Linked DNA regions of Homo sapiens. The protein of the gene in region 1 purifies or fractionates together with the protein of each later gene. This does not show direct contact. Each region holds a gene or a part of one and is shown in the gene's direction. Other genes may lie near its edges.

Region 1 (3,500 bases):
GGGCGTCCCCGGCCAGCCTTGCTGGCTCCATTTATTCAACACTCTGGCCACATTCTTATCCCCAGTGCTCTGCCAGGGCCTGACTCCAGATGGCCTCTGCCGGTGGGGCTGGATGCGTCCTCCAAGCCCTGCTTTCCAGGATCACCCGAGGGCCAGCACACTATGGATGTGGCTTCTGCCCCTTCTCCCTCTGCATCATAAGGGGTCAGCCAAGAGAGTGGGGCCTGCTTTGTTAAGGCACTGCTGTTGCCCATGCAGGGTCCAGAGGTGGCCAAATCTGGGCCCATTTGCTAGACTTGCATCCTGGGGAACTCTCTAGACCTCTTAGAGTCTCTGGTCCTCAGCTCTGAAAGGGGTGGCGAACAGTGTTGTTCGCTGACAGGTGGTTCCAGGGGTGAGAGTTAGTGTGGGAAATACTCCAGGCCTCTGATGGGTGGGAACTGAGGTTGCCGCCGCTGCTGCTGCCGGGACGGTGGGCTTCATCCCCTGTCCTCCAGTCCACCCATGTCCCCGATTGTGTCCATGTGTCTGTGTAGGTGTCAAGTAGGCCCCCGTGTGAGGCTGGCCACGCCCGTGGCCACCTGGAACTTGCCAAGTTCCCAGCCCCTCTAGGGCCAGCCAAGTCCAAGCCCTTTTCTGTGTCCAAGTTTGTTTTGGGAACTGGCATTCCCTCCACTGTGTCTGACTCATGGGGCATCTTCTGTTCCTGAAATCGGGCAGTTCTAGCTTCTAGGCCTTCGCATGTGGGGCACCCCTGCATCTATGCTCAGCCGGCTCCCAGACACAGCCTCTGCCAGGAAGCCTCACCTGGAGTTTGAGTGGAGAAAAAACACAGGGACTTTGGGGACTAAGTTTCAAATTCTGGCTGTGCCCCATCCAGTTCTGTCAGACCTTAGGCCAGTTACCTAACGTTTCTGAACCTCAGCTTAGCGGTTGTAAGAATTAAGGGAGCTCAGAGAAAAGCCTGGCGGCTTCCTGATAGAATTTAGAGGCCACCAAGGAACTCATTGGTGGCAGGACCTGCTGCAGGGGGAGGCAGCTCTGGCAGGTTTCCAGCACTTGCGGGGGTCAGAGGCTTTGCCTAGCAGCTTGGGTCCCTGTCCCTGGGAAGTTTGTAGCATATGATCATTTGACCTTTGGTGTCTGTTTTTCCACATGTCAAACAGAAATGCAAACAGTAGGCCAGGCACAGTGGCTCACGCCTGTAATCCCAGCACTTGGGAGACCAAGGCGGGCAGATCATTTGAGGTCAGGAGTTTGAGACCAGCCCGGCCAACATGGTGAAACCCCATCTCTACTAATAATACAAAAATTAGCCAGGCGTGGTGGTGTCTGCTTGTAATCCCAGTTACTCGGGAGGCTGAGGCATGAGAATCGCTTGAACCCGGGAGGCAGAAGTTGCAGTGAGCCGAGATCATGCCACTGCACTCCAGCCCAGGCGACAAAGTGAAGCTGTCTCAAAAAAAAAAGAAAAAAGAAATACAAACAGTAGTACTCGAAGAGTGGAGTAAGGGCTCGAGGGGAAGAGGGCCCTGTCTACCACTACCTCCCCAGCACCTCTCCTCCCTGCACACATCTGCCGAATCACCAAGTGCTGCAGGCCCTGCCTCCAAAGTGTCAATCAGTTTCTGCACCCTGCCCAGGCAGGGCCACCGTCAGCTCTTGCCTGGTCTCTGTAGTGGCCTTCCCAGGCCTTCCACTACCCCTCTAGCCTCCTCCAGCCCTTTCGTATCCACCAGGTAGCCTCAACAGGGTGATTTTTGTCCCCCAGGAGACATATGTCAAGATCTGGAGACCTTTTGGTTGTTACAATTCAGGGGGAAAGGGGTGCCCTGGCATCTAGTGGGTAGAAGTCATGGGTGCTGTTAGACTGTGCAGTGCCCAGGGCAGCCCCACAACCAGGAATTCTCCAGCTCCAGTGTCAGTAGTGCCACGGTTGAGAGATCCTGTGATCACACACCTGAACATGGCCCTTGGTGCCTCAGGCTGAAGGCCAGGATCTTAGCCGGCCATTCAAGACCCTTCAGATCTCTTCCCTGCCCACCTCTTCCACTGTCTTTTTCTGCCACCCCATGGTTCCCGCTGCACCTGCTGCTGTTGGGCCTCTGCTTGTGCCGTGACCTCTCTTGTCTGTCCAGTACAGTCCTGTTTGGGAGCCAGGAGCCCTTGCAGCCTGCCCTCCCGGAGGCTCTCCTTTCCTCATAGCATGGCTTATTCCCTCTTCCCCTCCTCCCACTGGGTGGACACCGGCTCATCTCTAGCCTAGGGGCTGCACTTCCCACCAAGCCGAACATCATGGAGCATTGACTGTGTGCCAGGCACTCTTGTAAGCATGTTTGTCTGTCAGAACATCCCAATGAGCCAGATAGTGTCATCGGTTTACACATGAGGTACCTGGGGCTCAGAGGGGTGAAGTGCCTTGTCCGACGACCCCTGGCCAGGGGATGTCCGAGTCAGGATTTGGGCTCTAGTAGGTTGGCTCTGAAACTCACACTTCAACCGCTGCACTCTCCTGCCTCTCTGCTCATGGGGAAATGGAGCATGGCCAGGGGACTCTAAGGATCCTCACTGTCCCCTGGAAACCTGTGTGGCTCATCCCAGTGACGAGCATTGATGTGTCAAAAGCTCTTTACAGTTTGCAAAGTACTTTCATTCCTGTTGCTGGCTAGATTGAGTTATTCATTCTGTTTTTCTTTTTCTTTTATTAAAAATCCAAATACTCAAAAATCAAAACACAAAAATGTGTTAAGTGAAAGAAGCCAGTCACAAAAAATCACGTTGTATGATTCTGTTTGATTCTATTTCTGTGAAATGTCCAGAAAAGACAAATCCATAGAGACAGAATGTAGATTAGTTGGGGGGCAGGGGATGGAGCGAGGAGATAGGACCTTACCCCACTAAAGGCTACAGGTGTTTTCAGGGTGATGAAAATACAGCCCTCCTGGGCCAGGCACAGTGGCTCATGCCTGTAATTCCTGCACATTGGGAGGCTGAGGCAGGTGAATCACTTGAGCCCAGGAGTTGGAGACCAGCCTAGAGATGGCAAACCCTGTCTACAAAAAATACAAAAATTAGCCAGGTGTGGTGGCTTGCGCCTGTAGTCCAGCTACTCGAGAGGCTGAAGTGGGAGGCTCACTTGCGCCCCAGAGGTTGAGGCTGCAGTGAGCTGTGTTAGTGCCACTACAGTCCAGCCTGGGTGGCAGATTGAGACCCTGTCTCAAAAAGAAAAAGAAAATACAGCCCTCCACCTTCGGTACCTGTGGGGAATAGGTTCCAGGATCCCCCTCAGATACCAGAATCCTCTGATTCTCAAGTTCCTGATATAAAAAGCTGTAGTATTTGTATATAAGCTACGCGCATCCTCTGTATACTTTTTTTTGTTTTGAGACGGAGTCTCGCTGTGTCGCCAGGCTGGAGTGCAGTTGTGTGATCTCGGCTCACTGCAACCTCCGCCTCCCAGGTTCAAGAGATTCTCCTACCTCAGCCTCCTGAGAGCTGGG
Region 2 (3,500 bases), on another chromosome or scaffold:
TTTGTTCCAACCTGCAACATGCACCCGGGTGTGTAACCATAAACCGTTTTATAATGTTTTGGTAAAGTGGCCACAGTTTTTGCGGGGATAGACTGCCTGCCTAGTAACTTAGTTCCTTAATTTAATGAAGATTTTTTTTTCTAGTTCTTCTTAGTGAATCTGTATGTTCCTCTCTTATTGGTGGAGAGTAGTACAGTCATATAAATATATATTTTGTGGGTAGTTGAAATGTTCTTTTAGGTAGTGCCAGAGAATATCTGTGGTCTGCCTGTATTATTTGGAAATTGACTTCAAATGAATTTTCCATGGAAGCAGTGAAAGTGCCACACTTGTCATGGAGCTAGTGTGTGCAGGTGTGTGTGTGTGTGTGAGAAAGGGGCCTAGTGTTCAGTATACACATAGCATTTCCTGTTTTTCCAGTTAGAAGTGGCTCTGCCCTTGCCTCAATGTGACATGTGTTTTAACTCATGTGGCCTGATTTGCTTGTTTGATTTTTCTTACAGGTATTTTTCATTCCAGGATTCACTAGCGTTACAAGATCGAACTGTTTTGATTGTTCATCCCTGGTTGTTATCTCTACCAGCCTTTTTCTGAGTAATTTCAGTGTGAAGCATGCTGCTGTTTAGGTACTGTGAGTTATCCATAAAGGGACCAAATCGCAGGGCCCTTTAATTAAGCATACCGGCATATTAGCAAATACCTTTATACGTTTTGTGCCAGAGATACTTAAGTATCTTCATTTTCTTTGGACTTTTCATTTTACCAGATGGTATTAATTATTCACATATACCTTGTATTAGTGAGAGAACCAGAGAACCAGAACCAATAGAATATACATAGAAAAAAAGAGATTTATTACAAGGAATTGTCTTACATGATTATGGAGGCTGAGAAGTCCCATGATCTGCTGTCTCCAAGATGGAGACCCAGGAGAACCAATGGTATAAGTTCTAGTATAAGGTCAGGAAAATATAGATGTATTAGCTAAGCAGCTAGAGAGAGAGAGAGAGAAAGAGAGAGACAGAGAGAGAGACAGAGAGAATTCAATCTTTCTTCACCTTTTTGTTCCATTTGGGCCTTCTACTGGTTGGATAATGCCCACCCACATTGGGGAGGGCCTTTTCCTTTACTCAGTCCATCAATTCAATGCTGATTTCCTCCAGAAACACCCACAGGTACAGCCAGAAATAATGTTTAACAAGATATCTGGGCACCCCAGTAGACCAATCAAGTAGACACATAAAATTAACAATCACATATCTGTAATACAATCAGAGTCAGGTTTTGTTAAAACATTTTTGTAAAAGTATACTTCCCAAGTTGGTTTAAATGAGCTGACTCCAAGAGTGTTAACACCAGGTACCACTTCTCTAAGTCCTGCTTCTCTACAAAGTCTTTCTCAGTAGTGCTAGCAACATCATACTTTTTCCTTCCTGACCAACACTTCCTTTATTGAACCAATTGATGGCAGCATTTTTGGTGTATTCTTGGTTTTGTGAGTGTATCTTCTGTAAGACAGTAAGTTCATCCACAATGAAGACAGTATCTACTGGCATACCTTGGAGACAAATTGTGGGTTTGATTCCAGACCACCACCATAAAGTGAGTATTACAATAAAGTGAGTCACTTGAATTTTTTGGTTTCTGGGTGCATATAAAAATTATGCTTAAACTATACTGTAGTCTATTAAGTGTGCAATAGCATTGTCTAAGAAAACAATGTACATACCTTAATTAAAATACTTTATTGCTAAAAAATGCTGATGATCATCTGAGCCTTCAGCAAGTCATACTCTTTCTGCTGCTGGAGGTTCTTGCCTTAGTGTTGATGGCTGGTGACTGATCAGGGTGGCAGTTACTGCATGTTTGGGTAGCTGTGGCAGTTTCTTAAAATAAGACAGTAATGAAGTTTGCTGCATCAACTGACTCTTCCTTTCACCAAAGATTTCTCTAGAGCATGTGTTGCTGTTTGATAGCACTTTCCCCATAGTAGAACTTTCAAAATTGTAGTCAGTCTTCTCAAACCCTGCCACTGTTTTATCAACTAAGTTATGTAATATTCTAAATTGTTTGTTGTCCTTTCAACAGTGTTTAGAGCATCTTCAGCAGGAGTAGATTCCATCTCAAGAAATGAGTCTTTATTTTTTCATCCATAATAAGCAACTCCTCATCTGTTAGTTTTATCATGAGATTGCAGCAATTCAGTCACATCTTCAGGCTCCGCTTGTAACTCTAGTTCTCTTGCTATTTCCACCGGATCTGCAATTACTCCTCCATGGGAGTCTTGAACCTCTCAAAGTCATCTATGAGAGTTGGGATCAACTTCTTCCAAACTCCTGTTAATGTTAATATTTTGATCTCCTCCCATGAATCATGACCGTTCTTAATGGTATTTAGAATGGTGAATCCTTTCCAGAAGGTTTTTGATTTACTTTTCCACTTTTCCTGGATACATCAGAGCAATCAGTATCTATGGCAGCTATAGCCTTACAAAGGGTATTCCTTAAGTAATAAGACTTGAAAGTTGAAATTACTCATTGATCCATGTGCTGCAGAATGAATGTTGTGTTAGCAGGCATGAAAACAACATTTATGTCTTTGTACATCTCTATCAGAGCTTTTGGGTGACCAGGGGCATTGTAATTGAGCAGTAATATTTTGAAAGGAATCTTTTTCCTGAGCAGTGGGTCTCAACAATGGTCTTAAAATATTCAGTAGATCATACTGTAAACAGATGTGCTGTCATCCAGGCTTTGTTGTGTAGAGCACTGAGAGAGTAGACTTAGTATCATTCTTAAGAGCCCTGGGACATTCAGAATGGTAAGTCAGCATTGGCTTCAACTTCAAGTTACCAACTGCATTAGCTTCTAATGAGAGAGTCAGCCTGTCTTTTGAAGCTTTGAAGCCAGACATTGACTTCTCCCTCTAGCTATGAAAGTTTTGACCAGCAGTCCCCAACATTTTTGGCACCAGGGACCAGTTTTGTGGAAGACAGTTTTTCCACGGACTGGGGGATGGGGTGGGGGAGGGGGATGGTTTCATGATGATTCAAGCTCATTACATTTTTCATTAGATTCTCCTAAGAAGCACGCAACCCAGATCCCTTGCATGCACAGTTCACAATAAGGTTCGTGCTCCTTTGAGAATCTAATGCCTCCACTGATCTGACAGAAGATGGATTGCTTGCCTGCCACTCACCTCTTGCTGTGCAGCCTAGTTCCTAAACCCAGGGATTGGGGTCCCCTGTCCTAGATGACATCTTCTTCCAATATAAGGCCATTTTGTCTACACTGAAAACCTGTTGTCTAGTTGTAGCCATCTTCATCAATGATCTTAGCTCCATATTCTAGATAACTTGTGCAGCTTCTACATCAGCACTTGCTGCTTCACCTTGCACTTCTATGTTATGGAGATGGCTTCTTTCCTTAAATCTCATGAACTGCCGGGCACACTGGCTCATACCTGTAATCCCAGCACTTTGGGAGGCCAAGGTGGGTGGA
Region 3 (2,635 bases), on another chromosome or scaffold:
GAGCCCTGTGTGTGGAGTATATACTCAGAATCAGCACATTTCAATAAATACATGTACACCTTAATAATACATACATTTGTAGCAAAAAAATGGCTAGGTTATTATAGTACAAGCTTAAAGGGAAAAATTATTGAAAATAACACACATTTTAAAGAATAAAACACACAGCCAGGTGCGGTGGCTTACGCCTGTAATCCCAGCACTTTGGGAGGCTGAGGGGGGCGGATCACCTGAGATCAGGAGTTCAAGACCAGCCTGGGCAACATGGTGAAACCCCATCTCTACTAAAAGTACAAAAATTAGTTGTGGTGGCAGGTGTCTGTAATCCCAGCCACTTGGGAGGCCAAGGCAGGAGAATTGCTTGAACCCAGGAGGCAGAAGTTGCAGTGAGCCAAGATCGCGCCACTGCACTCTAGCCTGGGCAACAGAACAAGACTCCATCTATTAAAAAAAAAAAAAAAAAAAAAAAAAAAAGTCGGGCTCGGTGGCTCACTCCTGTAATCCCAGCACTTTGGGAGGCTGAAGTGGGTGGATCACCTGAGGTCAGGAGTTAGAGACCAGCCTGACCAACATGGAGAAACCCCATCTCTACTAAAAATACAAAATTAGCCAGGTGTGGTGGCACATGCCTGTAATCCCAGCTACTCAGGAGGCTGAGGCAGGAGAATCGCTTGAACCTGGGAGGCAGAAGTTGCAGTGAGCCAAGATCACTCCATTGCACTCCAGCCTGGGCACTAAGAGTGAAACTCTGTCTCAAAAAAAAAAAAAGAATAAGACACACAGTACTGACCTATACAGGCACCCACTCTTATGTCTGCTCTTTATTTTGCCCAGCTTCCAGATAAATTATCATCAGATAAAATCTGCTTCAGATTTACCATGCGGCCTTAAAAGCATCGCATGATACTGAATCCTTGTCTCCAATGTCTTTGACTTTAAGAGCATTTTCCCTTTTCTAATAACAGCTTAATTCACATGTATGTCTGTTGGATATTAGTCTTCATGCTGCCATGTTGAATTTCTTCTAAAAGTCTTCTTCTCTAAAAGTCTTAATGAGCAATACTATCGTATAGAGATTACTTGCTAGTAAAAAGACAGATTTGAGAATCAGACAGATGTGGATTTCCTTTTTTGGCTCTGCCACTTATGAATGCTGTTGTCCTGGGCAAGTTCCTTCTCCTCTCTGGTTTCTGTTTTCTCATCTACAAAAATGGAGGGCAAGCTTCAAGGTTACTGGGATCTCAAGTTGTGTTAGTCTGCTCAGGCTGCCATGACAAAGTACCACAGACTGGGTGGCTTAATCAAGAGAAATGTGTCCTCTCACTGTTCTGGAGGCTGGAAGTCTAAGATCAAAATGTTGCCAGGGTTGGCTTCTTTTCTTCTGAGGCTCCTCTCTGTGGCTTATAAACAGCCATCTTCTCCCTATGTCTTCACATGGTCTTCCCTCTGTACTGTCTGGGTCTAAATTTCCTCTTCCTTTAAGGACACCAGTCATATTGGATTAGGGCCCACACTAATGACCTCATTTAACTTAATTACCTCTTTAAAGACCCTGTCTCCAAATACAGTCACCTTCTGGGGTACTGGGGGTTAGGACTTCAACATAAGAATTTTGTGGGGGACAGAATTCAGCCACAGCACAAGTGTATAGTACCTGACCCACGGCAGGCTTAGTAAGCCTACTTATTGTCTACCTCACCCACATTTAAACTGCACAAACTTTTAATGGGACGCTGTGTGTCTCTGTAGACTCCCAGACACACTAAACCTATTTAAACAGACAACTCAGCATTGTGACAGGCGCACTCTGTCCTTCCTTTATTATCAGGGATGAAGCTGTTTCTTCTCTTTGCCCCAGATTCCGGATGTCATAAATCTTTAAAATGAGTCATCCTTGTGTCTCCTCTCTCCCTCCTGCCCCCACAATCTTCCAGCACTGTGCCAGGGTGCTTTCATCTATATGTGGAAATGTGCTCACCTGCTGATTGTAAACTCAGTCATTGCCTTACTCTTCAAAATTACTGGTCCCAGCGGGCTTCTCTTCCAGCCATTTTTTCCTGATTCTCCATCTCTGGCAGCAGCTGCTGTGCCTTGATTCAGAAGCTGCCCTTGTCATATCTGAGCAAGTATCCCCCAGGGCTTCACGTGACTCTCACATAGCCTTGTCCTCCTCCTCCTCTGCTGTCCGCAGCCCTGGGTGGAGGGCCTGCAGTGGGGAGCTTGTCCTGCATCAGCACCTCAGAGGGGCAGTATTCCCTCATCCCAGTGGCATCCCAGCAACAACCTGTCCCCAGGTACCGTGGCCCTTTCAGCTCACTCTTTCAGCTCTTCTCAGGTCCCGCTCTGAATGTCCCCAGAGAAGCAGCCAGAGGAGCTTGTGTCCCTGGGCAACTGAGCAGCCTCCTGAATGCTCCTTTTGCACTTGTTTTTCTCTTCCAGCTGCAGAGCCCTTGCTCCGTGAGCAAAGCCTGGGTGCCCAAGCAGCCACCGCAGCAGCAGAGTACAACCTGCAGAGAAGCTGATCACCGGGCAGAGATAGAGCGAGCATGTGTGTGTGTGTGCGCGTGTGCAGAGGAGGGAGTGGTGTGCCTGTTTGTGTGTGCATGCATCTGTTGACACTCATGATTCTGAATGT
Region 4 (4,084 bases), on another chromosome or scaffold:
TTTGAAAGCCACATACACAATGCAACACACCTTCTTGCAATCTCAATGAAAGAAAGCCGGCATGCTCAACAGTCAAACAACCAAGTAACTGAAGCAAGATAATGTATACATTTTAAAGGCACGTTGGAGAAGCTGTTTTCACTATAAGTTGCATTGGTAGGGCAAGGCACAGAGTTTAATACTGAATGGGGCTTGTTTTAGTGACAACCCCCCACTTCTCCTGCCCTCTTTCTCTTCTTCCTCCTGCCTTCTTTCATTTTTCCCCTCCTTTCCGCCTATTTAAGTTCTATGCTTTCCTGAAGGATCAATGTAGTTTCTTCATAAATATAGTTAATGCAAAGAATTGCTTTTATTGAAGAATTATGCTCTTATATGAAAATGTGCTTCCTTTTATAAAATAATATTAGGTAGTTTTAAAAATTGTCTTCTTTGGGCAAAGTAAGAAATTAGTAATCTTGGGGTTTCCTCTATTTTTTTTTAATCTTACGCATCCAAGAACAGGAATCACTTGCCCAGAATATAGAGAAGAGAGATGAGATAAACAGCAAAGTACACTATATAACACCTAACAAGTTGATTCAAGTTGAACAAGTTAAGCTCCATAATATATTTTCTACGGGAGGGAGGGGGCAAATTAGCAGGTGTGCCTTAGTCTCCTTTGGGAGTCAGGGAAGGCTTCACTGAGGAGATAACGTTTGAGCTGGAGTTTGAAGGATTAGCAGGGGAGAAATGGCAGGGCATTCCAAGCAGGGTGCCTATGAGCAAAAGGCGCAAAGCACAAAAGAGTACGACGTGTCCAGCAGCTCTGAGTAGGCGAGTGGCTGCAGCGTAGGGTTCTTGGAGTTAGGTGATCAAGGGTGAGGAAGGGACTATTTTCCCTGCTTGGACGATTTCTCCTACACCTCATTGCACGGTGCTGGGCACACACTGCAGGAGCTCAATAAATACTTGTTGAATTGGGACAGAATGAAAGAGTGCGCTGGGAACCAGGGCATCTGGATGTTTTCTCACGCACCCGCAGTGTGACCTTGGCCAAGTCCCTTTTCTGGGACTGCGGTTCCTGCTTAGTAGTCGAGTACGAGTGAGAAAGCGGAGGAGGAGGTTGGCCAGAGGCGCCTAGCCTTTCTAGCGGCCTGAATCCCTGATTCGATGCGTAGAGGGCGGGGCGGGCCGCTTGGGGCCGCGGCGGGCGGAGGTTCAGTTCCTCCTCCGGTCCAGCAGGGGGCACGGGGAGTGGCTTCCCGCCGCCCTTCCCCTCCTTGCGGGCGCCGGGCAGACTGCTGCAGTCGCAAGCGGCGAGCGCAGTGGGCGGGGCGGGCCTGGCCGGGCCGGGCGGCGGCGCTGCGCTGACGGGCTGAGTCTGGCGGCGGCGGAAGCTGCAGAGGCCACCGGGGCGCTAACTGGGTGGCCGGTGGGCCGCTGTGGCCTCGAGCAGCCTCTTCGCGCGGCCCCGCACCCCGGCAAGCAGCAGCGGGCCGCGACGCCCAGCCTGCCAGTGAGCTGCGACGGGCACACCCCGGAGCGTCGGCGACTGCGGACAGGTTAGAGTGGGGGCAGGGGCGGGCGCGGGAGCAGCCCAGGGCCAGAGAGGGAGCCCGAGCCAGGCCATCTCCAACCATGTCCGACGAGGCCTCGGCCATCACTTCCTACGAGAAGTTTCTAACCCCCGAGGAGCCCTTCCCACTCCTGGGACCTCCTCGCGGGGTGGGCACCTGCCCGAGCGAGGAGCCGGGCTGCCTGGACATCAGCGACTTCGGCTGCCAGCTGTCCTCCTGCCATCGCACCGACCCGCTCCACCGCTTCCACACCAACAGGTACGAACTGCACCTGAGGGCAGGGGTGGATTTTCCACTTCTGGTCGCCCCCCGCTCCTGATCCTTCGTCCCGGGCTGCGCTTCCAGTCGCCCCCTCCCCCACCTGCTTTCGACCAGCGCTCATTCCCGGCCTCCTTCCCTGCCCCCCCTCCCTATTTTCACCCCTGCCCTCCTATTTTCCTTTCGACCGGCGTTTTACTCTCTTTTCCTCATTCATATTCTGGCTATAGCGACTCCTCCCTTCCCTACCTTCTCCCTCCCTTGCTTCCCTTCCCTCCCCCCATCTGTACCCTACGAATCCCAAACCCCCACCCTTGATTTTTAGATACGCCCCTGTTTGCATCCATCTGCAAAAGTTTAACCCCTTCCATTTCCGGTACGCTGTAGAGGAATTTGGATGGCTCAAGATCAATCCATAGATCTTTTGAAAAGTGGCGTTGAAAGGTGGAACATTTAAAGCTAGAAGCTTCATTTTCCCTATTTTTAATCTGTCTCACAGTCCTGTTCCCCCCGCCGCCACCACCCCTACCCCATTTTTTTTTTTAGTTGAGCGCTAGGAAACTAGTCGATTCTCTCTTTTTTTCCTCCTCCTTTATTAACTGTTTGCCTTAGCGCTTTAGGCTCTGCCAAAATTGGTAAGCTTAAATCTGGAGGATTCCTTCATATGACATATCCCTTGGTTTCCTTCCCCTTTGAAGAGACAGAGTAAGGCTTAGGATGGACTGACTTACACAAATTTATTCAGAGGGTGTATCTCCTCCTAACTGATTTCAGTAGAAGGTAGTGTTCTGGAGACTTCTCTCATGCAAGCATTTACGTGTTAGATCAAATCTTGGGGGGTGGGTTGAAGACGTTCTAGATACAGCCTCAAGTTTTAACATAGGTGGATATTTGAGATACATATACAAAGGGCTGGGGGGGTGTGTGGTTAAGGCTCTAGGAGAGGGGTTCAGCTATGGAAAATACTGGAGATAAATTAAGAAATCTAGTTCTGACTTCTGATCCAAGTTTATGATGTGAGTTTGATCAAATTCTTCCATATTTTAATGTCTTTAGCATATTTCTCCCCTCCCTTCCCTTAAATCAGTCTGTAGATTGAATGAGCTTCTACCAGATACAAGGAATGTGTAAAAGATGTTTCTTACATAAATGAAAGTTATAGTCTATGGAAACAAGGTGTTATAGTTAAATAATCAGAATATCAGTATAACACATCTCAAAAGGAAGTGGCAGTAAATTTATTATGACTACTCTAAATCGTCATTGCAAAAAATGAAGAAACAGGCCCAGAAAGAAAAGATTGAGTTCAAGGTCATAAAACCTAGTCAAGCAAATCCAAGACTATTCCTTTGAAGCCAATGATTAAACTTGGAGCAGAACTAATTGATCCAGTGTTACAAATAGAACTTATGGTTTCCTAGACCAACTCACAGAAGCCTATTTAACCCCTGATGTCACTGTAATGTGAATGTAACATATTCATGAAATCAAGTGTGCTTAGGGTTATTTATGTTGAAAAATAATGTAAAAGAATACCTTTGTACATATTTGGCATTTAAGTTTTGCAGCCTTGGAGCAAGTCACATACCCAGGAAAGTTAAATAATTTCAGAATGATCCTGCTGTGATGATGAGGGCAAGGGAGTGAGGGCAGAGGCTGTGGGTAAGTACTGCCAAAACTGGGTAGAGGTGATGGGGAGTGAAGTTATGAGAATAATATGTTTCTTACAACTTGTTCTGTTCCTTCCTCCTCCCCGTTTTTTCCTGTGTTTTCTTTCCCTTAAAGACTGTGGTGAGGTCAGGACTGTTTTTCAATGGGGCAGTGAGGAGGGGAGAAGGAGGTTCTTTGCAAGCCCCAGTTTTTCCAAGTCAAGCATTTTTCCTAGTTACTGCTTGCTTTTTTTTTTTTTTTTTTTAACTTCCCTCTCCTACCCTACTTTTCGCAAGGCTTGGCATGGTGGCAGGGGTTCTAATGCTCTGTATCCTTTTCAGCAGAGAGTAGGGGAAGCAAAATTAGCGATATTCACAGCACATGATGTTTCTGTCCTAGGCTACCTTGCCTTTTAAATGTATTATCCTTCTGCAATGTTCTGCTTTCTTACCCCTCCTCAAGATGGTGCTTGAGAGGACCATAGGCTTCCAGCCATTTCTTTTCAGGGAGAAGCACACAGCTAAATCATATATCGGGCAAAGTTTAGGGAGTTCTTTTATTTTGGAGTTGTATGTGTCACTTTTTTCCTTCACATCACATCATTTGTCAATTCAGGCAAC

The links. Proteins that work in one complex are often made in the same cells at the same time.
Region 2: the proteins of CSNK1E (region 1) and FAM110B purify together in Homo sapiens (affinity purification with mass spectrometry; 4 studies listed by BioGRID and IntAct, with this or other methods). This does not show direct contact.
Region 3: the proteins of CSNK1E (region 1) and CRY2 purify together in Homo sapiens (co-immunoprecipitation; 4 studies listed by BioGRID and IntAct, with this or other methods). This does not show direct contact.
Region 4: the proteins of CSNK1E (region 1) and FAM199X purify together in Homo sapiens (affinity purification with mass spectrometry; 4 studies listed by BioGRID and IntAct, with this or other methods). This does not show direct contact.

The regions. Positions count from the first base shown.
Region 1 is NC_000022.11:38,307,434-38,310,933, reverse strand, and holds part of CSNK1E (casein kinase I), read left to right. Parts: intron 1-3,500.
Region 2 is NC_000008.11:58,001,023-58,004,522, forward strand, and holds part of FAM110B (protein FAM110B), read left to right. Parts: intron 1-3,500. UniProt on the Homo sapiens protein: May be involved in tumor progression.
Region 3 is NC_000011.10:45,878,475-45,881,109, forward strand, and holds part of CRY2 (cryptochrome-2), read left to right. Parts: intron 1-2,439; 3' UTR 2,440-2,635. UniProt on the Homo sapiens protein: Transcriptional repressor which forms a core component of the circadian clock.
Region 4 is NC_000023.11:104,165,169-104,169,252, forward strand, and holds the start of FAM199X (protein FAM199X), read left to right. Parts: upstream 1-1,284; 5' UTR 1,285-1,617; coding exon 1,618-1,814; intron 1,815-4,084.